7 linked regions of the Homo sapiens genome follow. The protein of the gene in region 3 purifies or fractionates together with the protein of the main gene of each other region. This does not show direct contact. Each region holds a gene or a part of one and is shown on either strand. Other genes may lie near its edges.

What was found.
Region 1: the proteins of DGUOK (region 3) and DNM1 purify together in Homo sapiens (affinity purification with mass spectrometry; 3 studies listed by BioGRID and IntAct, with this or other methods). This does not show direct contact.
Region 2: the proteins of DGUOK (region 3) and GNG2 purify together in Homo sapiens (affinity purification with mass spectrometry; 3 studies listed by BioGRID and IntAct, with this or other methods). This does not show direct contact.
Region 4: the proteins of DGUOK (region 3) and SYN2 purify together in Homo sapiens (affinity purification with mass spectrometry; 3 studies listed by BioGRID and IntAct, with this or other methods). This does not show direct contact.
Region 5: the proteins of DGUOK (region 3) and DPYSL5 purify together in Homo sapiens (affinity purification with mass spectrometry; 3 studies listed by BioGRID and IntAct, with this or other methods). This does not show direct contact.
Region 6: the proteins of DGUOK (region 3) and ATP4A purify together in Homo sapiens (affinity purification with mass spectrometry; 3 studies listed by BioGRID and IntAct, with this or other methods). This does not show direct contact.
Region 7: the proteins of DGUOK (region 3) and NCALD purify together in Homo sapiens (affinity purification with mass spectrometry; 3 studies listed by BioGRID and IntAct, with this or other methods). This does not show direct contact.

What each region holds. Positions count from the first base shown.
Region 1 is NC_000009.12:128,251,879-128,255,378, forward strand, and holds the end of DNM1 (dynamin-1), read left to right. Parts: intron 1-1,222; coding exon of another isoform or gene 1,223-1,244; exon of another isoform or gene 1,245-1,259; intron 1,260-2,130; coding exon of another isoform or gene 2,131-2,200; exon of another isoform or gene 2,201-2,775; coding exon 2,776-2,836; 3' UTR 2,837-3,366; downstream 3,367-3,500. UniProt on the Homo sapiens protein: Catalyzes the hydrolysis of GTP and utilizes this energy to mediate vesicle scission and participates in many forms of endocytosis, such as clathrin-mediated endocytosis or synaptic vesicle endocytosis as well as rapid endocytosis (RE).
Region 2 is NC_000014.9:51,947,076-51,951,345, forward strand, and holds part of GNG2 (guanine nucleotide-binding protein G(I)/G(S)/G(O) subunit gamma-2 precursor), read left to right. Parts: intron 1-3,574; coding exon of another isoform or gene 3,575-3,603; coding exon 3,604-3,690; intron 3,691-4,270. UniProt on the Homo sapiens protein: Guanine nucleotide-binding proteins (G proteins) are involved as a modulator or transducer in various transmembrane signaling systems.
Region 3 is NC_000002.12:73,929,605-73,933,874, forward strand, and holds part of DGUOK (deoxyguanosine kinase, mitochondrial isoform a precursor), read left to right. Parts: intron 1-2,993; exon of another isoform or gene 2,994-3,079; intron 3,080-4,270.
Region 4 is NC_000003.12:12,010,493-12,014,762, forward strand, and holds part of SYN2 (synapsin-2), read left to right. Parts: intron 1-4,270. UniProt on the Homo sapiens protein: Neuronal phosphoprotein that coats synaptic vesicles, binds to the cytoskeleton, and is believed to function in the regulation of neurotransmitter release. May play a role in noradrenaline secretion by sympathetic neurons.
Region 5 is NC_000002.12:26,941,638-26,945,907, forward strand, and holds part of DPYSL5 (dihydropyrimidinase-related protein 5), read left to right. Parts: intron 1-312; coding exon 313-455; intron 456-905; coding exon 906-1,113; intron 1,114-3,018; coding exon 3,019-3,187; intron 3,188-4,270. UniProt on the Homo sapiens protein: Involved in the negative regulation of dendrite outgrowth.
Region 6 is NC_000019.10:35,553,356-35,557,625, reverse strand, and holds part of ATP4A (potassium-transporting ATPase alpha chain 1), read left to right. Parts: intron 1-537; coding exon 538-713; intron 714-1,813; coding exon 1,814-1,950; intron 1,951-2,035; coding exon 2,036-2,186; intron 2,187-2,291; coding exon 2,292-2,460; intron 2,461-2,549; coding exon 2,550-2,704; intron 2,705-3,796; coding exon 3,797-3,920; intron 3,921-4,270. UniProt on the Homo sapiens protein: The catalytic subunit of the gastric H(+)/K(+) ATPase pump which transports H(+) ions in exchange for K(+) ions across the apical membrane of parietal cells.
Region 7 is NC_000008.11:101,692,924-101,697,193, forward strand, and holds part of NCALD (neurocalcin-delta), read right to left. Parts: intron 1-4,270. UniProt on the Homo sapiens protein: May be involved in the calcium-dependent regulation of rhodopsin phosphorylation. Binds three calcium ions.

The sequences.
Region 1 (3,500 bases), on a different chromosome or scaffold from region 3:
AGCATCTGTTTTGTTTCTGCATGGCTGGAGGGTAGGGCTGTCGGTCTAGCACCCATAAACCAAAATGAGGCAGGGATTGGGGCTTGCCCTATGATGCTCTGATGACCAAAGCAGATGCGTAGAGGCAAGCAGCATGGTATTGGGCAAGAGGACTGGACTGGGAGTCCAGAGATGCTGCTTCACCCTGGGCCTTTAGACACGTCTCTTTCCCTCCCAGAGCCTCAGCATCCCTTCTATCAAATGATGACATTCTGCCTTTTTCCCAGGGCGGTTGTGGGGATCGAGGGAGACAGTGGCTATAGGGATGCTGTGTTAACTGCAGATGCAGCCGTAGGAGCACTTTGCTAACTGCCAACGTGAGTTCAGATTCTTCAGGGTATTTGGCACCCAGGTCTATGGTGCGGTGTGAGATCTGTGATGTAAGGTTTGATGCCTGCCCCAACTCCAGTCTTGCTAACACACATGAAACATTTGGCAAATCATGACCCTACCTTGGGGAAAAGAGCAGTCTGGGAGAGCTTCTTCAAGGCAACCTGACTTCAGTGCAGTCTGAGGCATGGCTGAGATAGGCTTACGTGGCAAGGAATCAGGAGGGTATCTGGGCCAAGAGCTGCAGTGTGGGCAGAGGTGTAGTGTGGGCTGCAACGAGGACAGCCACTGGACAAAGCAGAGAACAGAGACAGAATGAGGAAGAGCTCTGTGGGCAGGGTGGGGCGCAAGGTGGAGAACCTTCAAAGTCTGAAAAGTTTGACTTGTTGGGGCTCAATGCTGTGGGCAGTAGGGAACCACAGAAGGCTCTTAGGTGGAGAAATGACAGCTGGACTTTAGCGAGCAAGCCCTATCTCCATGAGCAGCACGGGTGATCCTCTAAGCACACCAGGCACGAGTGTGCAGGGAGCTGGTGCAAATGCCTCTGTGTGCGGGTGAGCTTCTGTGTTGTGACTCTGCCCACACGTGTGCTTCAGTGTGCTGAGTGGCTGCATGCCCCAGATCCATGCTGCACGCGCCGCCGGCCAGTGAGGGTGCTGGGCACTGGGAGGTGGCGGGGAAGGAGGCGTATGCGTGTTGTTTGTGGGCATGTGTGTTAGCGTGTGCATGTGGGCCATGGGGCCTCACAGCATGTGTGTGCACGCCCGGGCGTGTGCGTGTGTGTGTCCCCCACCCCCAGGCCGGCCCCACCCGTGCGTGTGAACTGCCATGTTGATTTCGTGCTGTCTTTCAGAATCACTATCAGTGACCCCTGAGGAGCGTCAGCCATGGTAGGTACATGCCTCACCGCCTGCTGCATGAACGGTGTGTCTGCCCCGCTGCACTAGCTCCACACGGGGCGCGCACCTGGGACCTCAGAGCCAGGCTCCCCGCCCCTCCCTTCTGCAGCTGCAGACTTGCTCTTTCCTCTTTCTGTCCTTGTGCCGCTGGCTCTCTCACCTCCCTTCCCTGCGAGCCTCGGGACTCAGTGCCACTGCCCAAGGCCTCCATGGCTGAGCCTGGAGGCTCTTGGAACAGGCTCCGCGCCCAAGCTGGCAGACATGGGTGCTCTCTGGAGCCGTCAGAGAGGGCAGAGAGCTCGTGGTTTATGGTGTAAAGGCTGGGAGCTTGGAGGGGGTCGTGTGTGGGGCTGGACTCTGAGGCGGCCAGAGGCCTAGGAACGTTATCCTGGGCACACCGTGCGTGGTGTGCAGTCTGAGTCATGCTCCCTGGGTAGGGCATCCAGCTCCCAGCCTGGGAGTGCTGAGAGCCAAATCCACCGTAGAGCAGGGGTGAGAGTCAGGGTCCCACCTCCTCTATCTGCCGGCAATCCAGTGGTGACCTAGGGTAAAAGCTTGAGAGTCCCATACACACGGTCATCCCACGACATACCTCACAGGCCAGGCAGGGACACACAGCCCCCTTCCCTCCCTCCCAGGTACCGTCATAGCTGCTAGTGTGACTGAAGGCAGTGTCCCTGGCCCCAGCTGAAGCACCGTAGCCAGCCAGCGGGCTCACGCACCTTGGCCTGTTGCTCCTAGGGTCACTTGTGCCATTCAGCCAAGGGGACGACCGTGCCTGCTGGCCCAGCTGAGCTCCGCCCAGTGAGCCCACCCCCCATTCTCCTGCCACTGACTCTCGCTCTTCTGCTTTTCCCAGCAGGAAGGGCCCAGCCTCACCTACGAGACCTGCAGCCCCCCGACCAGCTGAGGCTCCCCTCTTAGACTTATAAGTCTATGGCCACTGGCATCCGGCTGCCTGCCCTCCCTGCCTCCCCCAGGGTCCCTTCAGAGGGTCCTGGGTTTTCTGAACACCCAGAGGGGCCTCCGGCGCTCCCTCCAGCCATCCCTTTTAGTTTCACCCTCCTGGTTCAAGCAGTGTTCTTTCTCTATCAGGCCTGGTGGCTGTTGCATGGGGCTCCCCAAGGCAAGGGGTGGCCCCAGGCCAGTGGGTTGGAAGACAGGGTGACCAGAGAAGAGGGAAGCCCGAGGGGGCCGAGCATCAGCCTGAATTGCGGGTGCCCTGCCTGGGTGCCGTGTGAGAGGCCAGCGTGTGTGGGGTGGGGAGGGCCGCCACAGCCCCCAGGCGCTATCTGTGAAGCTACGGCTCCTCCCTCCATCTTCCTCCCCTTTCCCTTCCAGCCCCTTTTCCAGGAACCTTGCCACACCCACACCTGCAGCCTCCCCTCCCCGGCCCTCCCACCACTGCTGCGGCGCGGCCGGCCCCGGCCGTGTGCTGCGCTTGCCTTACCAGCTCTCTCCTCGCTTTTCTCTCCCGTTTTCTCTCTGCTTTCTCTCCAACTGCCAGCCGATCGGGTCAGGCAAGTCCATCCCGTCCTGAGAGCCCCAGGCCCCCCTTCGACCTCTAAACAGATCCCTCCTCTTCTCGGAGACCTCCCTTTCCAAGCCTGCCTGGACGGCTGTTCTGTGACTTGACAGTGGCTCCCCCAGCCCCAAAGCCAGCCCCCTTCATCTGTGACTTAATCTGTTGTAGTGGTGAGCTGATACATTCAGGTGTGACCGTTGGTGAAAACTTGTGCCCCTTCTGTGGTATGCCCTTGCCCTGTTCTATAAATATCTATAAATACTCATATATATACACACCTACACATGGCCAACCGCCTCGCCTCTAGCGCTGGGAATCAGTCACTGTGCTATCCTTGTGGAGTCTTGTGGCCCAACTACCAGAGAACGCTGTCCCCCGACATCCCACTCCAAAGTGTGCCACCTCCAGTGAGCCTCCTTGTCATGCCCGGCCTGTGGACAGCCAGCCCCCGCCATCCCTCCCACCCCCTACCAAGCATGGGGGTGCTGTGCAGGCAGCCGTGTGGCCTGACAGTTTCTACCAGTCCTGCTGTCCCTCGGCTGAGAATAAAACCCATTTCTGGATGATGGGGAATGTCTCCTCTGCTGGTTGTGTTCTCTCTGGAGCTCAGGGGAGGGGAAGGGCTAAGCCATTACTAGGGTGCTGCTGGGGGTGGTGAAAAGACCACATCTTTTCCAAGGGACATTTTTCCTGGAAAGCCCCTGGAG
Region 2 (4,270 bases), on a different chromosome or scaffold from region 3:
TAAGTCCATTGAGGTTTCAAATGTGTTTTCCCCTCCTGCATTTCTAGACTACTGCCCCATGCCTCTTCTTTCCCCATCTCAATTTCCCACCTCCCTACTTCCCTTCCCTGCCTATACAGAGGACTTCTTCCATGATAGGCAGAATAACAACCCCCCAAAGATGTTCATGTCCCAATTCCCAGAACCTAGAAATACATTATGTCACATGGCAGAGAAGAATTAAAGTTGCAGATGGAATTAAGGTTGTTAATCAGCTGACTTAAAAATAGATTATCCTGGATTATCTGTGTGGGCGCAATGTAGTTACAAGGGTCCTTAAAAGTGGAAGGGGTGGGCAGAAGTCAGTCAGAGGAAGATGTGACTTCAGAGGAGGTCAGAGTGATGTGACATGAGAAGGGCTCCACTCACCTTTGCCAGCTTTAAAGATGGAGGAAAGGGCCAAGAGCCAAGAAAAGCTGACAGCCTCCAGAAGCTAGAAAATGAAAGAAAGTGAACTCTCAGAGCCTCAAAAAGGAACACAGCCCTGCTTGTACCTTGACTTTAGCCCAGTGAGACCCATTTGAGACTAATGCTCTCCAGAATTATAAGATAATAAATTTCTATTGTTTAAGCCCCTAAACTTGTAGTAATATATTACAGCAGCAATAGAACAAATATATTCTCTATCTCAGCCTCCTCAAGCCACTCACAGCTTTTCCCAGGGAGCATGAAAAGGCATTGAGACACAGACTTTCCTTGATGCTTGAATGACAATAATGGGTCATTTACTCAGTTAATAGCAGGTCTGTTGGCTAATGACAGAGAACCCCTCAATAATGGTGGCATCAATAAGATAGGCACTTATTTCTCTGTCACATCAAAGGTAACCATCTCACAGTTGGCATGGTGGCTCCACAAAATCAGTAAGGACCCAGATCCTTCCTGTTCACCCTAGTGTAGCAGTCATGCTAGAGGTTCAAGAGGGACTTCTGTGATCAATGCAGATGCCTCCCAGGCCAGTAGCAGGAGGAAGGAGAGACAAGGCGTATACCTCTTCCCTTCAAGAACATTTCTGCTTATATCTCATTGGCCAAAACTTAGTCATGTAACTATACCTAGCTGCAAGAGAGGCTTGGAATGTATCTTTCGGCTAAATACACCTAGCTAAAATTCAGGGTTCTTGTGGTCTCCACTAAGAAAAAAAGTGTCGTTACTAATGAAGAAGAAAGGAAGAGGGATTAGAAGGCAAGTTGTGATCTCTGCCACAGGTCACCCTGTAATCTGGTGTAGATTCAGGGCAGAAGAGTCACTGGCCAGAATCTCAAATGTCCCAATAAGAATTTGGTAATTCTGTGATAGTCTGCATTCCAGCCAGATGAATGAATTCCAGTTTGGCAGAAACATTCGCTTCACAGAACAGCATCCAGGGGCTTGTAGATTGTGGCTGCATCCAATATTGGATGAATAGAAGAGTTAGGCTACCCTTCTGAATAAGTCAATGCTCTATCTTGGCCCTATGAAGTCTTCCTAGGCTGTTAGATGTTTGTTTAATTGTGGAGCATGTAATTTCCCTGTGAGGCTGCGATGATTGGGTCTCTAACCATGCTAATGAAATAATACTTGTTAAAGTCTCCTTTTATTATTTTGTTTTTCCATGCAATTCTCCTTCCTTTGATCTCCAAATGTGTAAAAGTAGAGTTCAGAGATCTCTGTGACTTCAAAAATTCCTTCAATCTTCCCTCTCATTTTATTGTCTCCAAACTCTTTGAAAATAAATTGAGGGATGGCCGGGCGTGGTGGCTCATGCCTGTAATCGCAGCACTTTGGGAGGCCGAGGTGGGCGGATCACGAGGTCAGGAGATCAAGACCATCCTGGCTAACATGGTGAAACCCCGTCTCTATTAAAAATACAAAAAATTAGCCAGGTGTGGTGGCGGGCACCTGTAGTCCCAGCTTCTCAGGAGGCTGAGGCAGGAGAATGGCATGAACCTGGGTGGTGGAGCTTGCAGTGAGCCGAGATCGCGCCACTGCACTCCAGCTTGGGCGACAGAGGCAGACTCCGTCTCAAAAAAAAAAAAAAAAGAAAAGAAATTGAGGGAACAATTAATTATGCTCCAATTTATTCTGTAAATGATGTTGGGTGGCTTATTTTGTAGTATTCTTCAACATAATATTCTCCATGAAGGGATTTGTATGTTACAGAGAGTTATACCTAATTTCTTCTTTTGTCTTGAAGAACTGGATATCAAGAAATAACTACCAAAAGAGATAATTTATAGACTTTTGCTTTTTGGTCATTAAGACAATAATTATTTGTTGATTTTAGTTGGTAGGTTAAAAAAAATCTATGTACAGAATTTGTTACGGGTTATTCTTCATTTTCCAGGTTTTCTGTGTGTTCTTTTTCTTTTTAAGATAAGTAACCTGATCTTACTTCATCCTTTGGTAAAAAGATTGTCCAAAGCTAGCAGAAGTCATTATTTTTTATATAATATCTTCAGAACAAGATTCCATTAGTGTTGACGAGGCAGTGTTTAATGTTTCTGTTTCATGGGTCATGCACTCTAGTCAAATCAAAGCACTTAGGTTTTGCTTTATCCAATAGGATATCAGTGATCTCAAGGAGCATATTTACACAGGTAGTCCTAAAATTGCATATGACACCTTGACACAAAGTAAGATTTGTTCAGAATGTGGGGGAAGTGGGCATCAGCAACGGGAATAAAATAAGGTATTTTCCAAGATGAACAATAATAATAAAGTGAGATGGTATGTCAAGAAAGGATAAGAAGAGAAATGAATGTGGGATAGGATTTGAAGGGGGAGGGGAGCACACATGGAGAAAGAGGTATGGCAGAGACAAAGAAACCATCTCGCAATCTGCCTAGGAACAGAACTCTACTCTCAAACCCTGGCCTCAAGGGATCCTCCCACCTTGACCTTTCAGAGTGCTGGGATTACAGATGTGGGCCACCATGCCCAGCCAAGAACTCTACTCTCAAAATGTTTATGTTCCAGATTTATAAAAGAAATCAGTTAATAAGTTTGTTGTACTTCATTTAGAATAACACTGGTGAACTAATTGTCATATTTAGAGATTAGGCATGGCAATCCCTCCCATTTGGCATGATAGATGTGTCCCTGAGGAATTATGAGTAAAGTAGATCGTTGTGACTCAAACTTTAATTTCAAATAGAGTGGGGAGGAATGGCTATTTACAGCAATGCTGGATTAAGTGACACTGAAAAGCCAAGCCTCCCACTATAGTGTCTCTGTAGTATAATACGCTGAGGTGGTCACAGTTAACCAGAAGGATGGGGTTTGAGCCCACTGGGAGAACATTTGGTAATATTCTTTGTGTGTGTGTTTTTTTTCTCTCTAAAGAAGGGATGGGGAAGTAGGGAGAATTGGAAAATCAAACCTCATCCTCTGCTCTGCCTGCCAGTCAGAGGTAATACCGACCAAGGATGGAGAGGGCTGGAGAAGCCAGGCCTGGCTACAGCCACTGCTTTGAGATCCCCTAGTTACGATGAACTTGCACATTTGCTGGCTCATGAATTCTCTGGTACAATCTTCTTTTTGTTTTCTTTTCTAGTGTTTCTGAAAGATCTATCCAGCACTCCGATGGCCAGCAACAACACCGCCAGCATAGCACAAGCCAGGAAGCTGGTAGAGCAGCTTAAGATGGAAGCCAATATCGACAGGATAAAGGTGAGGATGGTCTAACCCCACACTTCATCTAGCGTGAGTCTAAGGCGCATGTCATGTGACCACTCTTTCCTAGAGAGGGATAAAACCAGTAATGACAGGAGAGCATCTTAAAGATTAGGCAGAAGTTCATTTCTAACGTGTCTTTCCCTTCTCCAGCATAAAATAATAGAATGAATTAGATCCTCTTTCCCATGTAGAATTAAAACCTAACAACACAACACAAAAAAAAAAGCAAAACAGGCTCATGGTTAAATTCCAGTGAGAGAAATTAGAGAACACATAAAATATATCAGCGCACTAGTTCCCCTCCCTGTCCTCATGGAAACGTTTTTCTTATTTGGTTTTTAATTTTTTCTGTCCTGGTTCAGGTTCTAAGGCTAAATGTCCGTATTTTGGGTCTAACACTTCTAGTTATCCTTGCACGTTATAAGTTTTTTCTTCTTTATACTTTATTGAATTTTTTTCCTGCAAACACAAAAGTCACACCTTGCCTCCCTAAGAAGTCAAACAACAAAGAGGTTTAATGAAAGTTCATAGTCTATGTGTTTCTTTTTTTCCTCTCCCTCCCCAGACCTAACCT
Region 3 (4,270 bases):
ATAAGCAGAGACTGAGAAGGAATGCCTACTGAGGTAGGAGAAAAAAACAAAAGAGAATGATATCCTGGAAGCCAAGTGAAGAAGGTATTCAGTGGGAGGGAATGATCAGCTGTGTTATACTGTTTAAGTAAATGAAGGTCTTTGGTGAACTTGAAAAGAACAGTTTTAGGAGTGTTAGGAGTGAAAGCCTAATTGGTATAGGTTCAAGGAGAATGGGAGGTGAGGAGAGTGGGTTAAGATAACTGGAAGTTTTTAGAAAGGGAAGTCATGGGGTGGTAGCTGAAATTAGAAGAGGGTGTGAGTGTTTAACATTTTTAATTTTCTTTTTGTGAAAAGAATTAGAGCATGTTTTTAAGTTGACAGAAGTGGTCTAGTGGAAAGGAGGAAAATTGGTAAATCGGGACAGAGGATAGAATTGCTGGAGTGATTTTTAAGCAAGAAAGAATGGAATCTATTGCCCAGTGGGAAATAATTTAGTCTTAGCTAGGAGCACAATTCATCCCTAGTAACAGGCGTGATGGCAAAATATATGAGCACCAACTTCAGAGGGTGTGGTGGGAACTTGGGAAGGTCTTTTGGTTGTGTCTGTTTTCAGAGTGAAGTAGGAAGAAAGGTCATCAGCTAAGAGTGAATGTAGAGACAGAAGACATGAAATACTCTAGTGAATAAGCAAGAGAAATGTTGAATTACTGGGTACCATTTAGGACCCACTTGGAGTTAGTGGTCATGAATTTAAAGTGAGACCAGTCACCATGGCTGTGTGTTTTTCTCCAGCCAAATCCGAAACATTGAAAGGAATGGGAAGGGAGAGTCCTGCTATTTGCCTGATGATGTTATTATTTAAATATGATGTTTTGTACTGTACTTTGAGAAACACACCCCTAAAGGAAGCTCTGTCCTCAAATCCCAGAGAGAGAACAGGGTATGTCACAAAGTAAGTACTTAGGACAGGTCATCAGATAAGGTTTGAACTCCCTCTATTTTCCTGACTTTTGCTTCTTAACCTTGTCAAATTTCTCTGCTTCTTCCTTGCTTTCTTGTGCAACAGAGGCTTACTGAGTGAGGACTAAGAGTCCACTCTCATGCTGAGCACAGCAGTGAATGGGATACAGCTCCTGTCCTTCAAGGAGCTCACAACTCACAACTAAGTAGGAGAAAACAGATTCGACATAATTTTCTTTTTTTTTTTCTTTTTTTTTTTTTTTTTTTGAGACAGAGTCTTGCTCTGGCACCCAGGCTGCAGTGCAGTGGTGTGATCTTGGCTCACTGCAGCCTCCGCCTCCCAGGTTCACGCCATTCTCCTGCCTCAGGCTCCCAAGTAGCTGGGACTACAGGCGCCCGCCACCATGCCCAGCTAATTTCTTGTATTTTTTAGTAGAGACGGGGTTTCACCATGTTAGCCAGGATGGTCTCAATCTCCTGACCTCGTGATCCGCCAGCTTCGGCCTCCCAAAGTGCTGGGATTATAGGCGTTAGCCACCGTGCCTGGCCGACTCGACATAATTTTCATACTGTGTGGTGAGATTTGTGATTGGGCATGGAAAGCCAGAATCTCTGGGGTAGGAATTCCCAAGAGGAAGAAGAGGGAAAAGTGTTTCAGCCATAGAAAGCAACATGTGCCAAGGTGGTGAAGCCTGAAGAAACACATGCAGTTTTTTGGGGGTTTTTTTGTTTGTTTGTTTGTTTTTTTGATGGAGTCTCATTCTGTCACCCAGGCTGGAGTGCAGTGGTGTGATCTCATCTCACTGCAACCTCCGCTTCCCAGGTTCAAGTGATTCTCCTGTCTCAGCCTCCCAAGTAGCTGAGACTACAGGCATGTGCCACCACGCCTAGCTAACACATGCAGTTTTAATGAAAGAGAAGTAGTTGGATGTGCCTGGAGTTGAAGGGACCTGTGAAAGGGTGGCAGAACAAGAGGTTGGAAGGGTGGGATTTGCCATATGTCGAAGAGCCTTGTGGACCATGCTAGTTTATCCTGTTGGCAGTGGGAGGCTGTTGAACACTTGAAGCCAGTGTGTGCCATGACCAGATTAATTTAAAAAAGGAAATTGTGTAGGATGAGAAAGAAAGCTCCATAAAACAGGCACTTTCTTTGTATATTTTGTTTGCTGCAGTACCCATAGTGCCTTGCATCCAGTTTGTTGGATGAATGAATAGATGAATTGGAACAGAGTTGAGTCTGTGCACTAGTTTTGTGGCTATTGGAGTAATTGGAGGGAGGAAAGATGCAGGCCTGAATAGAAGAACTGAAATGACAGAGAAGTGACGGTTTCAGAGAGATTTTGGAAGCGGGATTGACAGGATGTGGTGGCCACTTGGAGGTGAGGTAGGAGGAGGAGTAGAGGAGGGTGACACTGAGGTTCATGAGGATGGGAATAAAGGAAGAGGCGGTCTGGGGAGGTTAGAGTGATATGTTTTGTATGAGGTGCCTGTGAGACATAGAGGTGTTCTGAGACAGATTGGAATATGTGCCTGAGGTCAAGAGAGTCCGGAGATGGGTGCTGAGATTTCAGATGTGGAAGTTGTTGACTGGTGGGTAGAGGGGTAGTTGGTGAAGCCTTGGAAGTAAATGCAATTGCCCAAGAAAAGGGTGATGCGAAGTGGAATGGGAGGACCTAATCTGACTCTTTTTACTTTCATCTCCCACTACTCTTCATCACCCCACACACCCTGATGACTCTCCCTAGACAGAATTAGTCACTGCCTCCTCTGTGGGCTGACATAACATTTTGTACCCACAACTGCTGCAGCACTTGAGTTCTGCTGAGCTTGTTTGCACATTCACCACCTTCCTTGGGCTCTGACCACTCAGTGTGCTGTTCATCTTTGTATTGCTGACACCTAACCCCCGCCTTGACCCAGTGTACTCAGTACTGACCAGATTCTTGAATCCTGTGCTATGATATCCATGTGGAAGTTAGGCATTGGTACCCACACAGGGAATGTATTAAACTGCTTTTTAAATCAAGAGTGATCATCTTCTCTAATCACAGGTAACATCCTCAAGCAAATCAGAATGAGAGCACCCATTCAGGAAACCTGAACAGGGAAGGTGAACCCCTGTCCTGACCAAAATTGGGTATGTTTAGAGGGCTTTTCTTGTATTCCTTCTGCTCTAAGTCCTATTATTCTGATCCTGAAGGTGCAGACAGCGGCATGTAAGGAAAATTGATCAGTGAAGTAGCAACTAATGGCATCTAGCATGACTTACGAAGCCATATAAGATGTGTGATTGAAAGTCAAAAGCTTGGTACCTAGAACCCCTGAAAATCTAAAAAATAAAACACCTAGCCTGTCTTTTAAGACTGTTCATCCCTACAGTGTATTATCATCTTCTTGTGATTATCTTACGATTACAAGCGTAAATTGAAGAAAAGATTGCTGTATGAAATCTCACTGTCAGTGAGTCATCTCAGCATTTTTACCTTATTTTCAAAGACCCAACCAGAAAAGAGGAAACTCTTTTGCACTTTTCAATCAAGAAACTTAAACATAAAGCAGTAGAGGGCTTCCCTAATAACATGTTTCCTCCAGCATTCAAAATTAGTGACTTCACATCACTAATATGTGTCTTACTTATTTTAAGTATAAATGATTGGGCAAAGAATCCTTGGGAAAAAATAGCCTATTTATTTCAAATACTGTATAGTGGATTCTCTGTGCCTGTGACTCACCTCCTTCCCTCCATCACTGTTCTCATACTCAGGATGCAAAGGTTCAGTCTCTGTCTTCAAAAGTGAGCTCCCAGTCTAGCTGGAGGGAGTGATGAGTGAACAAATAATTACAGCGTAATCCTTTGGTAAACCAGAGCAGGCAGTAATTAACTCTGCCTAGAGATGAAGTGGCGCTGGAGAGAGTTCAAGGAGGCTTCACAGAGAAGGTGGCAGTGGAAAGCTGAATCACCTGGTAGGCAAGGCGGGAGGAGGGGATGTCAGATCAGTGAGGGTCTTTTGTGCTGAGCAGATGAGTTTGGATCATAGGAAGGTGTGAGAAAATTTTTTGCCTTTTTTTTTTCGTAAACAGTTTTTCATGAAAAAAGGTCATCAAAGTAAAATGTATTAAGTTTTTTTTAAGCCTGCTGACTGATTTTTATTAACTTTGCCTAGAATGCCTTTAAGCTTGGAGCCTGTATGATCCTGGGTACTCAGTCTTGGGGTTGGAATATAACTTGAGGGCAAGCTCTCAGCCTAGATCATCATTTCAGTTATAGTACTTACCTCTGAGTAGCTACTCCATAAACATTTGTTGATTGAATGAGTGAGTGAATGAA
Region 4 (4,270 bases), on a different chromosome or scaffold from region 3:
GCTATGGGAACACAGAGATAAGTTATCCTGGGGAATGAAGATCTTGTACTTAGAAATGTTCCATTAAAATGTGCCACCATGTATTCTTAGATAAACCACTTCGCATCTTTGGACTTTGATTTTCTAAAATTTGTCAAATGAGAGGATTGAAATATATTCTCCAAGATCCTTTCCAGTACTGTATTATTTCCGTGGTTCAGTTTTTGTGCCATTTTCTTTTAAAAGCATTAGCTCTAATTTTTTTCTATATGGTAATGCCTGTAAATCTTTGGAAGCAGAGACATACGTCAATAAATGACTAAACATTTCCCGGAATGAAAAGCTCACCTTTGAATGGTCTTAATTCAGTACCTCCTTGTTACATTATTGCTACCATATGTTATCGTGAAAAAAGAGGCTAATCCTGTGATGCCTGCTGTGTATATTTCCTCATCAATGATGGGAATTGGGACTTGTGGCTAAATCTATGTGGGAATCTAAAACAAAAGATGACAATGCCACCTGATAAGCTTGCAGAAGTTCTTACAAGATTTACAGGTGTACACATAGTGGGAGTGCCACTAAACACACAGAAAAACCAAGATACAACTCTGTCTTGAGGCTACTGCATTTAACCATGACTTCACTCTAGGTGGTGGATATGATCCTGAAAAAGCTGTGTATATTGAGTTTTTGTAAATTGAATAATTTCAAAAACAGTGGGGCACTCACTATTTAAATGAATTGTGGAAAATCTTTTGCAAGAGAAATTGCCTTTTTTATAAGAAAAAAATTGTTACCTAATTTTTTTTAGCTTCCCACATAGAAGCAATTGGGTATCATAAAGCTACAATATCTCTTTAGAGAAAGGAGAGGATGATCTAGAAGGCTTTTCTGTTCTGCAGACACTGCTTCAATACAGCAGGAAGACGTAGTTTTTAGTAGGGCAGTGACCTGTGGAGAGAATAAAGTGAGCAGATACCACAGGTGCCTGAACTCTAAGGATGTCCATGCTGCATGACTAAGAATAGGAGGATGTATATGGGCCTTGGTGTTTGTTGCTTGACAGCAGGCATTTCAGAAATTTTAACCAGTTCATGTAAGATTGTAAAATAGATTAGATTCAGTCACCCTGCCCTTCTTTCCTTTTCAGCAGCATGAAACAATGTGAGATACAGGATTGAGGGTCAAAAGACTTCGAATTGAGATCTGGCTCCACTGTTAGCCTTATGGCCTTATCAGGTTTACATAATCTCCTTGAGCCTTTCTCCCATCTATTTGACAGATTTCCGCTGGAGGTCTACTATATATCAGGCACTGTTCAAGGTTCTAGAATAACAGACAAAAATTAGTTTCATTACCTGTAAAGTGGAGATAACATTATGTATTTCTGATACCACTGTTGTGATAATTAAATAAAATAAGGTACCATAAAAGCATTTTGTAAAAGCTAAAGAGCCATACTAGTAGTTAGTGTTACATCTTTCCCTGTTTCCAGCCGCAGGTATCTGATCTACCTTGGTTCCTTTTTTGAGTTCCCAAAATTTTGTTATGTAAGTGATTGTTTATTTTGCACACTTCTGGGATGAGGAATCTTCTTTTTGTTGTTGTTATTTAGTTGAGGGCCACCGACTCAAGACAATATCATCAAAGGCTTTCTTTTGTGTTTTTCAAAAGGCAATATAACTTAGTTTTTTTTTTTAATGACAAAAACATTACCCATTAACTCAGCTATATTTAATAATTAGGGGCAGAACCACATAAATCTTAATTTTATTTAATAAGTGAATTCTAAAATAGCTCTCCTTCAGTTTTACTTGTAACTAATTAAGGAAGGATGGCTACAGAGGAAAATGAAGGAAGAGAGAAATACACAGAAGGCCTTTAAAAGGTAGTGCTTGTATTTGTTTCCCTATCCAATCAAAGCCTAGAACATTGCTTTCAGAATATTTTTAAGCAAAACAAAAGCATTCACGGATCTTAGAAAGTTAGCTTCTTTCTTAACATTCTTCCCTAACACGTAGTTGCTCATTGTGCTTATTCACAGTTTGCCTCCAGCTTTTCAGACTCATTTCTCACTGTCCCCTCAATCCTGAATTTTGCTGTACTCTGGATTACCCTCTCCCTGCACACATGCTGGACTTTTAAGACCTGGTGCTATTATTGCACAGCTGCCTTTGTTTGGAATGCTCTTGTCCTGGTTCTCTTACCTTAACGTTGATTTTCTTTATTTCATTCTCCGAGGATAAAGGCATTGCCTATTGTTGAAAAAGACTCATCTCTTGTCTTCTGCATGACCTTGCTTAAGATTTCATCTCTCTTTTTCCTTCTGTTCATATTCTCATTTTCTACTGATTGCTCTTTCTATGGGTTGCTCCATTCTTGTAAATAAAGTAACAAATGAAAAACTCATCCTCACCTTCCTAATCACTCTTCCAAACATGAAAGATAAATCTCACTCGTTACTTATCCAGTTATTTGCCCTTTTCCACTGACACTGGCCTTCTGCCTTCTCTGTAATATTGATACTGTTCTTGCTAGGGAACCTAATTGCTAAATCCAGAGGAAGGTGTCAAATGTTCACTGATGTGTTTGACACTGTATATCTTCCCTTTGGAAGTCGCTTGGCTTCAGGACACTGCATTCTTTGTTCCTTTTTAAAATTTTTAAATAGTTTTGTAAAGACAAGATCTTGCTATGTTGCCTAGGCTAGTCCCGAAGTCTTGGCCCCAAGTGATCCTCCTGCCTCAGCCTCCCAAAGTGTCAAGATTACAGGCATGAGCCACCACCCCCAGCCTCTTTGTTCTCTTCATACTTGTTTTATCGAAGTTTCTTTTCACTCTTCTTGTTCTTTCCCTTTGTCTACCTCATTAAATGTAGATGTTCCTCCGGGCCCCCTTTTCCTGCCCACTTCTTTTTTTATACTGCATATTCTCCCTGGTCCATCTACTCTCAAGGTGTCAGTTACCTCTTAAGTACAATCAGTTCCCTAATCATTACCTTTAGTCCAAAACTTTGTCCTCATCTTTAGACATATGTGCAGCTGCCTGCTGGACATCTCCATCTGGGTGGTTAAGAGTCGTTTGATCCAATATTGAAATCCATGTTTTTCCTTCCTATTCCAGCTCTTCTATTCTGTATTTTAAGTGGGACACCGATGGTCACCTATTTCAAGTTCTCATTAACTTTCACCTAGAACTTCTGCAAGTCTCATCATGATTTCCATTTAGTAACCTGAATGAACTATTTAAAATGCAAATTTGACCTTTTTACTCCTTTGCTTAAAGTTTTTCAGGAGCTTCTTACATCCTATAGGTAGTTTATGGCCCTCCTGTGATTTGACCCCTGCTTTCTTCTCCTGCCGTCTCTAATTATTTCCATGTCCAGACTTCCTTTTCCAGCAATACTGAACTGTTTGCACTTCCATACACACATTGTTGCATTCCTCCTCCTTGTCTTTACTGTCTGCTACTACAGTTTCCCTTCCTCCCCTTTCCTTTTCTTGATTAAATTCATATTCATCTTTTGAGACTGAGTATTTCCTTTTCCAGAAACTCTTCTCTAACTCTCTAGATTGTATTGAGCGTCTATGCCCCCTCCATGCCCTCTTTCAATACTGCAAGTATCTTTATCTCTGGACACAACACAATGGTCTGTTTATGTGTCTGCTTCCCCACTAGATAGTGGGTTCTCTGAGGACAGACAGGCTGAATGTTTCATTCCTTTTTGCATCCTTAGCATCCAGCATAGGGCTTGACACATAGATTGAGGACAGTAAATCTTTGCCATATTGAATTGAGCAGCAAGAGAGTCAAAGGATGAGATAAGGGATAGAAGGTAACAATGAAGAGAGGGAAGTATCCTAGGATTAGAAGTATATGTTAATATGTTGGAAGTCATCCTTACTGTCTTCAAATATAAGCTTTAGAATGCTTTCACTCTTATGTCCTATGAAATATAAATTAATTACTAATTTTCAACCATACCACATCATAAATCTTTAGAGATTTAGCTCTGAATGAGAGAGCCATAGCAGCCCACAATACTGGAAAGTATTATCTAGTCCATGGCAGCTCTGAGCAGAGCAAAGGCAAATGGAATAAAATTGAGGACCAAGTTTCTCTTACCATATATTGACACTTGGCTCTCAAGGAACCATTTTTCTGAAAATTCGGTCTTCTTTTTTCCTCAGTGTGAAACTCCAACCTCAGGCCACCCAAGCTGTGTGTTTCTTTCTCTTTAGTGAAAAAGTTCCTTTGGGCTATTGCTTTGTCTATACCTTTATGAGTTT
Region 5 (4,270 bases), about 47 Mb from region 3:
ACTCATCCGTGTGGGCACATGAGCAGAGCTGGTTTTACAAACAGGAGGCAGATTTGCCCCCGGGCAGGAAGCCTGAATGGAACCACGGCCACTCACCATAGTTGCTGGGTGAAGGGAGAAAGGAATAAGTGAGCAACTGGGACCCAGCCAAGCAGGCTGGCTCATCTGAGATGGTGCTCATGGCCTTGTCCCTTTGTGACCACTGTCCTGACCACCTAAGCCCTAAGTCCATGGGCCAGCATCAAAGGTGACCAAGGGTTTGAGACCCACCCCCAGAGCCTGGTTGACTTGACACTTTCTGCAACATTTCAGGTTGGAGGAAAGATGGATGAGAACCGTTTTGTGGCCGTTACCAGTTCCAACGCAGCTAAGCTTCTGAACCTGTATCCCCGCAAGGGCCGCATTATTCCCGGAGCCGATGCTGATGTGGTGGTGTGGGACCCAGAAGCCACAAAGTAAAGTTTGTTGCTCGTCCCCAGGGCTAGAGGGGCTTGGGATTTTGAAGAAGACTTGCATTACAGATCTCCAAAAGCATATAATTTTGCACTATTTCTAGCACAAAATATGGCCCTGGCCTACCGTTGGCCATCTTCTCCCTCCATCTTCACACAGTCTTTCTTCCGTGTCACACATGTCTGGTGTGTCTGTCTCCTCTTCTTATAAGGACACCGATAAGACTGGATTAGGGCCCACCTATATGACCTCACTTTATCTTAATGATTACATTAAAGGCCCTAAATAGTGCCATGTTCTGAGGTTCTGGGTGTTAGAACTTCAGCAGAAGAATTTTGAAGGGAGCCAATTCAACCCATAACAACCAGCCTTTGGGGCTCACCCCTCCCATGGAGCTGTGACATTTTGACCTGTCCTCAGCGCTTTCTCTCCCGCCATTGCCTCCCCACCAGGACCATCTCAGCCAGCACGCAGGTCCAGGGAGGAGACTTCAACCTGTATGAGAACATGCGCTGCCACGGCGTGCCACTGGTCACCATCAGCCGGGGGCGCGTCGTGTATGAGAACGGCGTCTTCATGTGCGCCGAGGGCACCGGCAAGTTCTGTCCCCTGAGGTCCTTCCCAGACACTGTCTACAAGAAGCTGGTCCAGAGAGAGAAGGTGAGGTGGGAGGAGGAAGATGCAGGGGTGTTGGCGCCCCCTGCCGGGGAACATCCTCCATGACTGTTTTAAATCTCAAAGAGATGTTCACTCCAGTTTTCGACCCAATTCCATTGCACTTTCTCCAGCGTTGAGAGGGGAGTGTGCGGCAGCGCCAGGGAACGCTAGAGTCAGAAAATGCTGATTTCTGTTCCCCGTCTTTGATTACCAAGTGGCATTTTAAGTGGTCAGGCAGCAGGGCTCCTGAGTTGCTGAGGGCACAAGTGGGAAATGTGAGTGTGTGCGACCGCTGAGCTCCTCTGGATACGCAGGCTTGGGGTGGAGGAGGTGCTGGGGGCTGGAGATGCTGCTTTGGCTCGGCTCCCTCCCACTCTTGATGAAGCAAGCGGGGGGTAGAGCTGGCATTTGCAAAGCATTGTCTGAAGCACAGGAGGAGCAGGCACCTGAACACGGGAGGCCCACACTGCTGGCACACAGAGCACACGAGAGGGCTCAGAGCTTTCAGAGAAACCAAGGACCCTTCTCTCCCAGAGGCCAATGAGTGAAGAAATCCACTGCCAGGTCTGCCGTGGGAGCGCAGGCTTGGGCTGCCTGAATGAAGAAAGCGTGACTTTCGTGATCGCAGGGCTAAATCCAAAAGCAAACTCAGGGTCTCTTACTCATCACACTCAGCTAATGTTTACTTTTTTGTGGAGATGGACGGGGTTTAACCGTGTTGCTCGGGTTGCTTTCAAATTCCTGGGCTCAAGTGATCCGTCTGCCTCGGCCTCCTAAAGTGCTGGGATTACAGGCGTGAGCCACTGTGCGCGGCCCAATAACACTTTTTAATACGATGTAGGACCATAAATGACCTCTGCAGTAATAACTGCTCGTACTTCTGTGTTGCCTCTCATGTGCCAGAGCAGTTGGAACAGCTTTACACATATTAATTCGTCTGCTCTCCTGCAACTCTCTGATGTAGGTATAGTATTATGGGCACAGAAAAGTAACTTGCACAAAGCCACACAGTTTACAAGTGACAGAGTTGGGATTGGAACCTAGGCAGTCTGGTTGTAGAATATAGACTCCTAACTCTACTGCCTTTGTGAGTACAGAATTAGCTAGTATTGCTACTGGGGGCCTCTCATCTCCAGATGGGGCTGTGTTTAGCCTCTGTTCCCTCAGAGTTGTCAGACCAGTAAAGGGTGTGGCTTCGTGGGAGCCTAAGGTGGGGAATAACGTTGCGCTGTGTGGGAGGGCGCTCTCTAAAATTGACTTCCGGTTGGGCATGGTGGCTCACGCCTGTAATCCCGGAACTTTGGGAGGCCGAGGCGGGTGGATCACGAGGTCAGGAGTTCAAGACCAGCTGGCCAAGATGGTGAAACCCCGTCTCTATTAAAAATACAAAAATTAGTCAGGCACGGTGGCAGGCGCCTGTAATCCTAGCTACTTGGGAGGCTGAGGCAGGAGAATCACTTTGCGGGGGCGGAGGTTGCAGTGAGCCAAGATCGCACCACTGCACTCCAGCATGGGCGACAGAGTGAGACTCTGTCTCAAAAAAAAGAAAAGAAAAATTTGGTTAAAGTTGACTTCCTCAGATGTCTACCTGCTACCTCGGTGAGGCTTCCATCAGTGTTGAGGGGGAGCCAGTATCTCTCCCATACACATGCATGCACACACACATGTGCACTCACATACATGCACGCATGCACACATGTACACATATGCACATGCTCTTTAGGAGGTATGAGAAAACTCCAGCCCCTGGACTCAATGTTTAAGAAGCCTTGGTCACTTGCAGTGATTTGGGTCTTGGGCAGAGTGGCAGTGTCTAATGTCCCACCGGCCCCCAGGGAGGCCATGGTTGTATCACTCAGCTCTGATGGTGTTGTCCTGTTCTTCTGCTCTTCTTCCATCCTTCCCTAGACTTTAAAGGTTAGAGGAGTGGACCGCACTCCCTACCTGGGGGATGTCGCTGTTGTCGTGCACCCTGGGAAAAAAGAGATGGGAACCCCACTCGCAGACACTCCTACCCGGCCCGTCACCCGGCATGGGGGCATGAGGGACCTTCACGAATCCAGCTTCAGCCTCTCTGGTAAGAGTCAGGGGGCCACGGGAGGAGGATGGGGGTCTGGGAGAAGTGGCCCACCTAGGCAGTGGGACTTACGCCTGCTTTTCTTTTGTGTCCTCTCCTCCCTCCCGTTGCCTATTTCCAGGGATGAGTGCTGGTTTGGATATTAGACTCACATAGACATTAGTGGGGACAGGAGGGCTGTCCTGGTCCCTGGGCACAGACGCTCTAATAGGCCATGGCCCACCTGGGGCTCTGCTCGGGGTTTCTAAGTTCAGATATTTTTGTCCCTTGAAACATCTTGAGGGCTGTGCACACAGTGGGTGCTCCAGAGATGCCCTGAGCTCAGAAGAGTCAGCCCTGTCTGTGGTTCACGGGACTGCACCGACCAGCCCTTCGCCCACCCCAGCCCACTCCTCACCAGCCTCTCTACTCCTTCTGCTACCCCCTCTCCTCCTCTGACCTTCCCACACCTTTCCCCGCCTTTGCCTCACCTTCACCTTCTTTTTTTTTTTTTTACCAGGAATTGTATTGTATATATTTTATTAACTTTAAGTAAAATATTTTCTCTCGACTTCTGATGCCCAGTTTTTTCTCTTATCTTTCTGTCCTTTGGGTCCTGGCCCCAGTCCTTCTGTGGAATCTCTGGGTTCCTTGGGGGGTGCGATCCCAGTTCTTAAAGCCACGATCTGCAGTTTCCCGCCCCCCCGTCCCCCCCCGCACCCATCACCATGCGAGCCACGGGCTCATAAATGATGATCCTCAGTGGAGAACAAGCAGAGGCTGTAAGATGCCTCGGGCCTCCAGGTGGCTTAGGTGGGAACTGTCACCACCACTTGCAGGGGGCTAGGACCCTGAGTCTCCCTGAGCACAGTTGAGCTGCCTTCAGGATAAGCCCAGAGAGAGACCAAGCACCCACTCAGTAAGGGCTGTGCTGGGATGGGTACGGCGAGAGGCGCAAGACCCTGGTCCTTCCACCCACAGCCTGGAGTTTACTGGGGGAGACAAGCCCCATACACAAACCATCCTGCTGTGAGAACAGAGGGCTAAACCAGAGGGATGCCAATGGGTCAGCGCCTGCCTGCCCAGGCTCCTGTGTGCCCTGCT
Region 6 (4,270 bases), on a different chromosome or scaffold from region 3:
CAGGTGCGAGGAGGAGCTAGCACAGACCCTGCCCACCACTCCCGGCCCAGCCCTGACCGTCCTCATCCCTGGCTGCTGGCTGATTTGTCGCAGTCCACAGCCTCACCCTTGACTTTCCCTGTACCAGTCCTGACCCCTGTCTGTCCTCACTTTCTACCTTGACCCCAGTCCTCACCTGGACTTTTATCCGTATCCTGACCTCTAACCTCTCCCAATTTTTGTCCTGACGCCTTAAACTTCGCTGCCTCTACCCTAGAAAGCAGATCTGTGGTCCAATTCTGGGCCTTTTACTTGCTGTGTGACCTCTGGCAAGAAATGTCCCCTCTCTGAGCCTCAGTTTCCTCATCTGTAAGATGAGAATGGGCCTCACAGGGTGGTTGTGAGGGTAGATTCAGATAATGTGAGTGAAGGGGTCAGCACAAGGTCAGGCATCCATAGGTGTTTGGTGCAAGGGGCCTGGTTATTTTACCCATTTCCTGGCCCTGCTAAGAAAGGGTGTGCCCAGGGCTCTTCCCTGACTTCCCCGTTTCCGGTCAGGCTTCTGCCAGCTCTACCTGAATGAGAAGGACTACCCGCCTGGCTATGCCTTCGACGTAGAGGCCATGAACTTTCCATCTAGCGGCCTCTGCTTTGCGGGACTTGTATCCATGATTGACCCACCCCGGGCCACCGTCCCTGATGCTGTGCTCAAGTGTCGCACCGCAGGCATCCGGGTATGCCACTGTGGGGAGGAACAAGTGGAGTGAGGACAGAGGATGGCAGCAGGATTTGGGTTGAAGAACCCCATGACAAACCCACCTGAAACTGGCTTGAACCAAAATGCATTGGTTTATGATACTGAAAAATTCTGGGGAATTAAGCTTCAGGTCTAGCCAGATCCAGGAGCTCAGTGTCATTAGGAATTTTCCTTTCTCCATGTCTCAGCTCTGCTGTTCTCTTTGCTGGCTTTATTTGCAGGCACTCCCTTCACTTGGGGACACACACACCCCTGCTCCAGCAGCTCAAACTTAACTCCCACCTGCTTAGCCACCCCACAAAAAGAGAGTGCCTCTTTTGCAGTAGCACTGGATTGGGTCACTCATTTATCCCTGAGCCAGTCACTGGGGCTGGGGGATGGAAGACCTTGATTGGCCAGGTCTGGGCTTACTTACCCAATCTTAGCCAGGGACCTCACTGCAACTGATGGTGTAGGGGAGAGGAGTGGTTCCCCAAACACAAAACAAGGGTGGGAAAGCCAAGGCCAGGCAGGCAATGCCCAAGCCCTTCCCGTGTCTCTACGGCCCTGTTACATCGGGCCTTGTTACCTTTCTAAGCTTGTTCGTTAGCCCTCTTTCCTTGTTCACTCCTCTGCAGTTATGGTGTCCTCCCTGCTGTTCCTCCGACAGTTCGGGCCTGTCCTCACCTCAGGGCCTTTGCACCTGCTGTTCTCCCTGCCAGGAGCACTCTTCTCCCAGCTTTCCACGTGGCTGACTCTCTCACCTCTTACAGGTCTCTGCTCAGATATCACCTTCTCAATAAGCCCTTCCCTGGGTACACTTAAAATCGAGTCACCGTTTCCTTCACCAAGCTTAATATGTTTTTTTCCACTTTCTAACACACTATATAATTCGTTTCTTTATTTTCTGTCACCCTCACTAGAGCTCCTCAAGGACAGGGATTTTTGTCTCTTTTGTCTCTGCTATATCCCAGGCACGTAGGAGGTGGTCACGCTTGGTCAAGTAAATGAACACGTGTATCAGCAGATGTCTCCCAGGGAGGACAGGGAGATTGGGCTGATCTGAAGGGGTCAGTGATCCACTGGTTCCCCCTACAGGTGATCATGGTAACGGGTGACCACCCCATCACCGCCAAGGCCATTGCAGCCAGTGTGGGCATCATCTCGGAAGGCAGCGAGACAGTGGAGGACATCGCTGCCCGCCTCCGTGTGCCCGTAGACCAGGTTAATCGCAAGTAAGCCCCCCCAGACCTCCCCGGGGTTCTCCCCACATCTGGCACAGACCGAGGTCCCAGCGAGGTCCTCCCATCTCCTCCCCAGGGATGCCCGTGCCTGTGTGATCAATGGCATGCAGCTGAAGGACATGGACCCATCGGAACTGGTCGAGGCCCTGCGCACCCACCCCGAGATGGTGTTTGCGCGCACCAGCCCCCAGCAGAAGCTGGTGATCGTGGAGAGCTGCCAGCGGCTGGTGAGCCCTGCTGATGAGGGTGGGCAGGCGGGCAGACAGGCGGGGCTGGTCTTGGACCGGCCTCTCACTGACCACCCACCCACCACCTGCACCCACTGCCTGCAGGGTGCGATTGTGGCCGTCACGGGGGATGGTGTGAATGACTCCCCAGCTCTGAAGAAGGCAGACATCGGAGTAGCCATGGGCATCGCTGGCTCAGATGCTGCCAAAAATGCAGCTGACATGATCCTGCTGGATGACAACTTTGCCTCCATTGTGACAGGCGTGGAGCAGGGTCCGAGCCACGCCAGGGGGAGGGCAGGCAGTGTGGGCACAGGAGGGAGAGGGCTGTGAGGAGGCTGAGGTGCCCACCCTACCCCACAGGTCGACTGATCTTCGACAACCTGAAGAAGTCTATTGCCTACACATTGACCAAGAACATCCCAGAGCTGACACCCTACCTCATCTACATCACCGTCAGCGTGCCCCTGCCCCTCGGGTGCATCACCATCCTCTTCATCGAACTCTGCACTGACATTGTAAGTCCACAGCCCAGGGTACCCATCCACAGGGTGCCCAGAGACACTTGCTTGCAGATGGACAGGAGGGACAGAGACCACCACAGACACTCTTGGGCACAGAGTGACAGACAAGACCTGTGTGTGCAATGACAGCCAGTGCAGGACACATGGGTGGCAGGCAGGTGAACAGACCTAAATGGACATACAGCCATGCACACACAGGCGGACACTCAGGTAGGCCCGGGCCGACCCATGCACACACATGACTCAGATACAGATACTCAGACAGAGATGGAAACAGAACAGGTATCTGGCCAAACTTGAATCACAGACACGTGCCCCTAAACAGACACGGACAAATAAACCCCCTCAGATAGACCCCATGGCAGACAGACAGAAAAGAACCACAGATACAGTCACGAATGCAGCCAGAGGCGCAGCTGTGTTGACAGGTATTTATTCGGTAACATTTACACAGTGCTTTCTCTGGGCCAGACACACCATCATTTCCTTAATTTTGTACTCATAACCACACTATGAGATGAGTTTTGTTACTATCACCCGTACTTTACTGATGAGCTCATCAAGGCATAGACAGGTAGAGTGGATTGTCCCAGGTCACTGGGCAAATAAGTGGCCCGGCTGTGACTTGAGCTTGAGCAGTCACAGGTCCCACAGCCTGTGGTCGTGGTCAGTATGCTCTGCTGCCACTCTAGGCACAAGCAGATGAAGGGGCACGGCGACACTGAGAGACTGAAGATACACAGAGATAGGGAGTGACACAGAAATACACAAGAGCAGATACAGTCACAGAGAATTACACTGGAGACAGGGACAGAGAAACAGAGTGAGGAACAGAGAAAGAGAGGGAGGGAGACAGAGGGAGAAGATAAAAGCAGATGTTCTTACGAAGATGGGCACCAGGATGCCAACACCCAGGGGCCAGTGGGGCCCAGGCTGTCCAGGCTGGTGTGGCTGTGCCGTCCCTGCAGGTCCTGCCTGCTAACCTCAGTCCTGTTCCTGCTCACAAGTGGGGGAAGGGGGACCCGAAGTGGAGGGGACAAGGGCCCAGCCAAACCCTCAGTCCCAGTTCCTTCCACTCCTGGCCAGTTCCCATCTGTGTCCCTGGCATATGAAAAGGCCGAGAGTGACATCATGCACCTGCGTCCACGCAACCCAAAGCGTGACAGATTGGTCAACGAGCCCCTGGCTGCCTACTCCTACTTCCAGATTGGTGGGTGCCCGTGGGCCGGGGAGCCTGGAGGTGGGGGGCTCTGCGCTGGGCTGCTCGCCTGCCCCAGGCCCTGCCTTGGGCTCCGGCTGGTTCTGGACCTCAGTGTCTGCATTTGGTCCTGGGTCTCCGTTGTCCTCCGTGTCCCTCTCTGTTTGTGACAGTCTCTCTGGTTCTGCTGTGTCCCTGCTCTCTCTCTGACCTTGCTCTCCATGACCCTGTCTCTGAGTTGTTGCCTATTTCTGTCTTTTTGGGTCCTGGATGTGTCTTTTTCTCTCTGTCCCTGCCTCTGTCTCTCTGTCCCTGCTTCTCTCTCTGCCTCTGTGTCTCTGTCACTGTTTCTGTGTCCCTGG
Region 7 (4,270 bases), on a different chromosome or scaffold from region 3:
GACAGAAAAACAGTATGGCACACAATAGACCTATCATTAAACCTCCCAAATGCGGGCTGAAGGGAATGTCCCCATCCGCATTGGACCTAGTCCTACCCCTATTGATTGGTATAAGATGTGGAGGCACAGGTAGAAGAAGCCGGGCCCACAAAGCTTGTTCTCCTCCAGTGAGGACCTTCAGGAGGGACAACCAGCAGGAAGACCCAGTAGACCCCTGTGTCTCCAATGTTTTTTGATTGTTTTTTGAGACAGGGTCTCATTCTGTCACCCAGGCTGGAGTGTAGTGGCACGCTTACGGCTCACTGCAGGCTCCATTTCATAGGCTCAAGCAATCCTCCCACCTCAGTCTCCTGAGCAGCAGCTGGGACTAGAGGTACTCCCCACCACACAGGGCGTTTTTTTTTTTTTTTTTTTTTTTTTTTTTTTTTCTGTACAGACAAGGTCTCATTATGTTGCCCAAGCTGGTCTCGAACTCCTGGGCTCAAGCTTCTCCTCCCTCAGCCTCCCAAAGTGCTGGGATTACAGACATGCGCCACCTCTCCTAGCCGTCTCCATTGTTTATGTGCATACAAATCCCCTGGGAATCTTGTTAAAATGCAGAATCTGATTGGGTAGTGTGGGGGAAAGGGGTGGGGCTGAGAGTCTGTATTTTTAATAAGCTCCGGTGTGATGCTGATGCTGCTGTTCTGAAGACGCTGCTTTGAAAAGCAAGGTTCCCACTTTGAGGAGCAAGGCTGCAGATGACATTCTTCAGGCTAGAGAGGCAAGTGGATGCCTATCATGGACCCTTGAGAGTCCACAATGACTCCTCAAGGATGACAGACATGTAACACTCTGTAAGTGCATGCCACATGTTTCCCCAGGCAGACTTCTAGTCCATTCCAGTGCTTTTCTCCCTGTGTGTGACAATGGTCTCAAGTTCCTTCTCAGCAAGCTTCCAGGCAGTCCTGAGATGGAAACCACCTGCCATCAGAGCTCTGAATTATTATGCATCCTCAGGCCTGAGCTAAACTGGGTACAGCTATGAGATCTGATGGGCGAAAGAGGATTCTGTGGAGTTTTGTAAGCACTACTGAAACTATCACCCCATGCCTGTGACCTCCACATGGGACTCAGTAAGGGCCCTTTGACCTCTGTGGTCAAAGGTAGTTTTTATTTGGGAAGAGGAATGAAAAGTCATTGTTTTTATCCCCAGATCATGACTTTGCTAATCAGAGTCACTTTGGGCATCTTGGCCCTGGGGACAATTTTTAGAAAAAATAGATTTTGCCAGGGAGTAGGCAGAAAATTTCAGAGAGTTCTGGAGCTCTAGGGGCAGCAAGGCAGGTGCAGAGGACAGAGAAAGGAAAGCAGCTGAGGGGAGTCGCCTCCAAATGGGAAAGGTGAGAGCAGAAAAAGACACTGAAGCTTCACCTGAGCTGCTTTACAGTCTTGCTCAGGACCAACCCTGCCAGAAGTTCCTAACATGTTCTGGATAAGGTAGGGTAAGTACTCTAATCTCAGTCAAAATAAGAATGAAAACAGACTCACCCAGTGTGCTGGCCCTTAGGCTGATCCCATCCCTCAGGGATGCTTCTGGACAGGCTCCCTGAGTCTGTCTCAAACCCACCCAATGTGCTTACTGAACTCCATAGCTGACTCTGCAGCGACTTGGTCTGGGAGGTAAAGCGCAGAGTTAGGGTGCTGTCTAGGATTATGGGTGTCCCTGGGGTAAGCTGAGCCATTTCATTCCCAAGAAATGCTCACTGAAGTGTGCTCTGGAGACAAGAGGGGAGCCATCGTCTGCCCTCCTCATCATGGTCCCCTGCCTGCTGTCATCCCAGCCCAGGTCTGCTCCACCAACTGTGCTGGGGCTGTAGTGCCATGTGCCTCACTGCCGGGGACACGTAAGTTCTTGGGGGAGCTAGGAAAGGCCGGAGAGATGGAGCTGTTTTTGCAAATGGGAGAAGAGAGGCCCTGAGATTTAACACGCCCAGGTGAATATTTAGTAACAGTAGACAGCAGGTGTCTTTTCACACCAGCAAAAGTCTTGAGGTCTAGCAACCTCTCCCCAGCTTGCTTTGCTCCCACAGTGGAAGCTTTTCGTAACTCTTGACATAGTCAAAATGGAATCGGCACCAACTATGAAAACATGCACACCCCTCACATACATTTCAAGCTCATATGATCTAAATATTTGGTGAATTCATAAGCCCAGGAATCTTAGGACAACAATAACACAACATTTAGAAATTGGCATCCCTGCAGATCACATTAGCACAACCTCCTTAAAGGAGAGCGCATGGAGCTGTTTCAGGAGTTGCAGAGGTGTTGCGGGGAAGAGCACTTACAGACAAGGGATAAGTTTATTTTTGCCAGAAGTTTTAAGGGGGCTGTGTATTTATTCATTATCAATCTTCTTTGGGGCTGGATTGTTCCTTCTCCAAGTCTGTTCTGGCCTCAGTAAGTTTGTCTCACGTGGTCCTTCTAGATGCCACTGGCTTTGTGCCTGTGACTGGCCATAGGAGGTGTCTCCCAGCTCAGATGCTCCACAAAGGCTGTTGTCAAGAGTCTGACAACATGATACGCTCCTTGGTGTCCTGGACCAGCAGCTTTGTTTATATTCTTCTCTCACCTGAGTGCTCACCTACCCCATCTCCCCTCCTCCTTGGACTCTTACCCATGTGTTAAGAGCAGATCAAAATGTTACCCTCCTCCAGGAAGCCTTCCATCATCTTCCCTTCTTCTATTGCTATGTGCAATCTCCCTCCCTCTGTGCTAGCAAGGGGCTCCAACCCAACCTCTCTCATATCACTTCCTTCCATTTACCTTGAATTCACACCCAGAATGTTCTCCTTTTAGATGTGAGGGTAGCAGTCACATCTATTTTTTGAATCCCTGATAGTACCTAACATAGGGTCTTGAATACAGTCAACTTCACTTAGTTTAAAGAATTTATTCAGGAATAACTGTCCCCCAGTTGCCCTCTCATTCTTTCCCTCTCTCACCTTTATTCTGCACTGCTCCAATTTATAAAGTTCCCCTTTATCCTTTTATATGTTTTTTTTAGTTTCCTCTTTTCTTTTTCTTCTCTCTCTCTTCACATAATTAAACATATTCATGTGAAACCCCTTAAAGACTTAATCTGTCAAAAGATTTGAGCTTTTCCCTTAGAAACCATGCAAACCCACCCACCATTGCAGACGATCTCAGAGGTTTGGGTATTTAGAAGCTGATCCATAGACCCCAGGTCATGGAAATCCCTGCTCTTAGGTGACTGCCTCTTCATCCATCCACTCACTCAGTCATTCATCAAATATGTATAAGCAACTAATGTGTACCAGGTATTGACATTGACCTAATCCTTTCCCTCATGGTTTTTGCTGTGAAATAAGGCAGACATTAGTAAAATAAAGAAATACATGTAAAACCATTGTTGAGAAAAGTGCTAGAAAGAAGAGTGCATGGCTTCTGTGATGATATAGTGGGAGAGTTAGGTTTTGCCAGGAGGGTTAGGGTAGGCTTCTCTGAGGAATGATGATTGCACAAAGACGTGAAGAAAGCATAGGGCTTAAATAAATCAGGGGTGAGCAAAACACCATGTGGAAGCCCAGAGTGGGAGCGTGGCAAGGAGGTCAACAGAGTGTGGGGGCGTTCAGTACACAATGTGGCTCTAGAGCAAGCAGGGAAAGACCACTGAGGCCTCACAGTGTTTAGGGATCTGTATTTCTCCAACGAGCAACAAAAGATGGAAGTGACATTAAATTTGATTTTCCTATTCACATTCATTTCCCAAATTTACCTCTCTTCCCTTCCTTACTTGCAGTCAGTGGTGTTCAGAGAATTGAAAAGTAGTCATTTGCAACATACCAGAATCTCTGGGAGACAGCTAAAGCTGTGTTAAGAGGGAAATTTATAGCACTAAATGCCCACATCAGAAAGCTAGAAGGATCTCAAATCGCCACTCTAACATCACAATTAAAAGAGCTAGGGAAGCAAGAGCAAACAAATCCAAAAGCTAGCAGAAGAGAAGAAATAACTAAGATTAGAGCAGAACAGAAGGAAACAGAGACACAAAAAACCCTTCAAAAATCAATGAATCCAGGAGCTGTTTTTTTGAAAAAATTAACAAAATAGACCACTAGCTAGACTAATAAAGAAGAAAAGAGAGAATAATCAAATAGACACAATAAAAAATGATAAAGGGTATATCACCACCGACACCACAGAAATATAAACTATCATCAGAGAATACTATAAACATCTCTATGCAAATAAACGGGAAAATCTA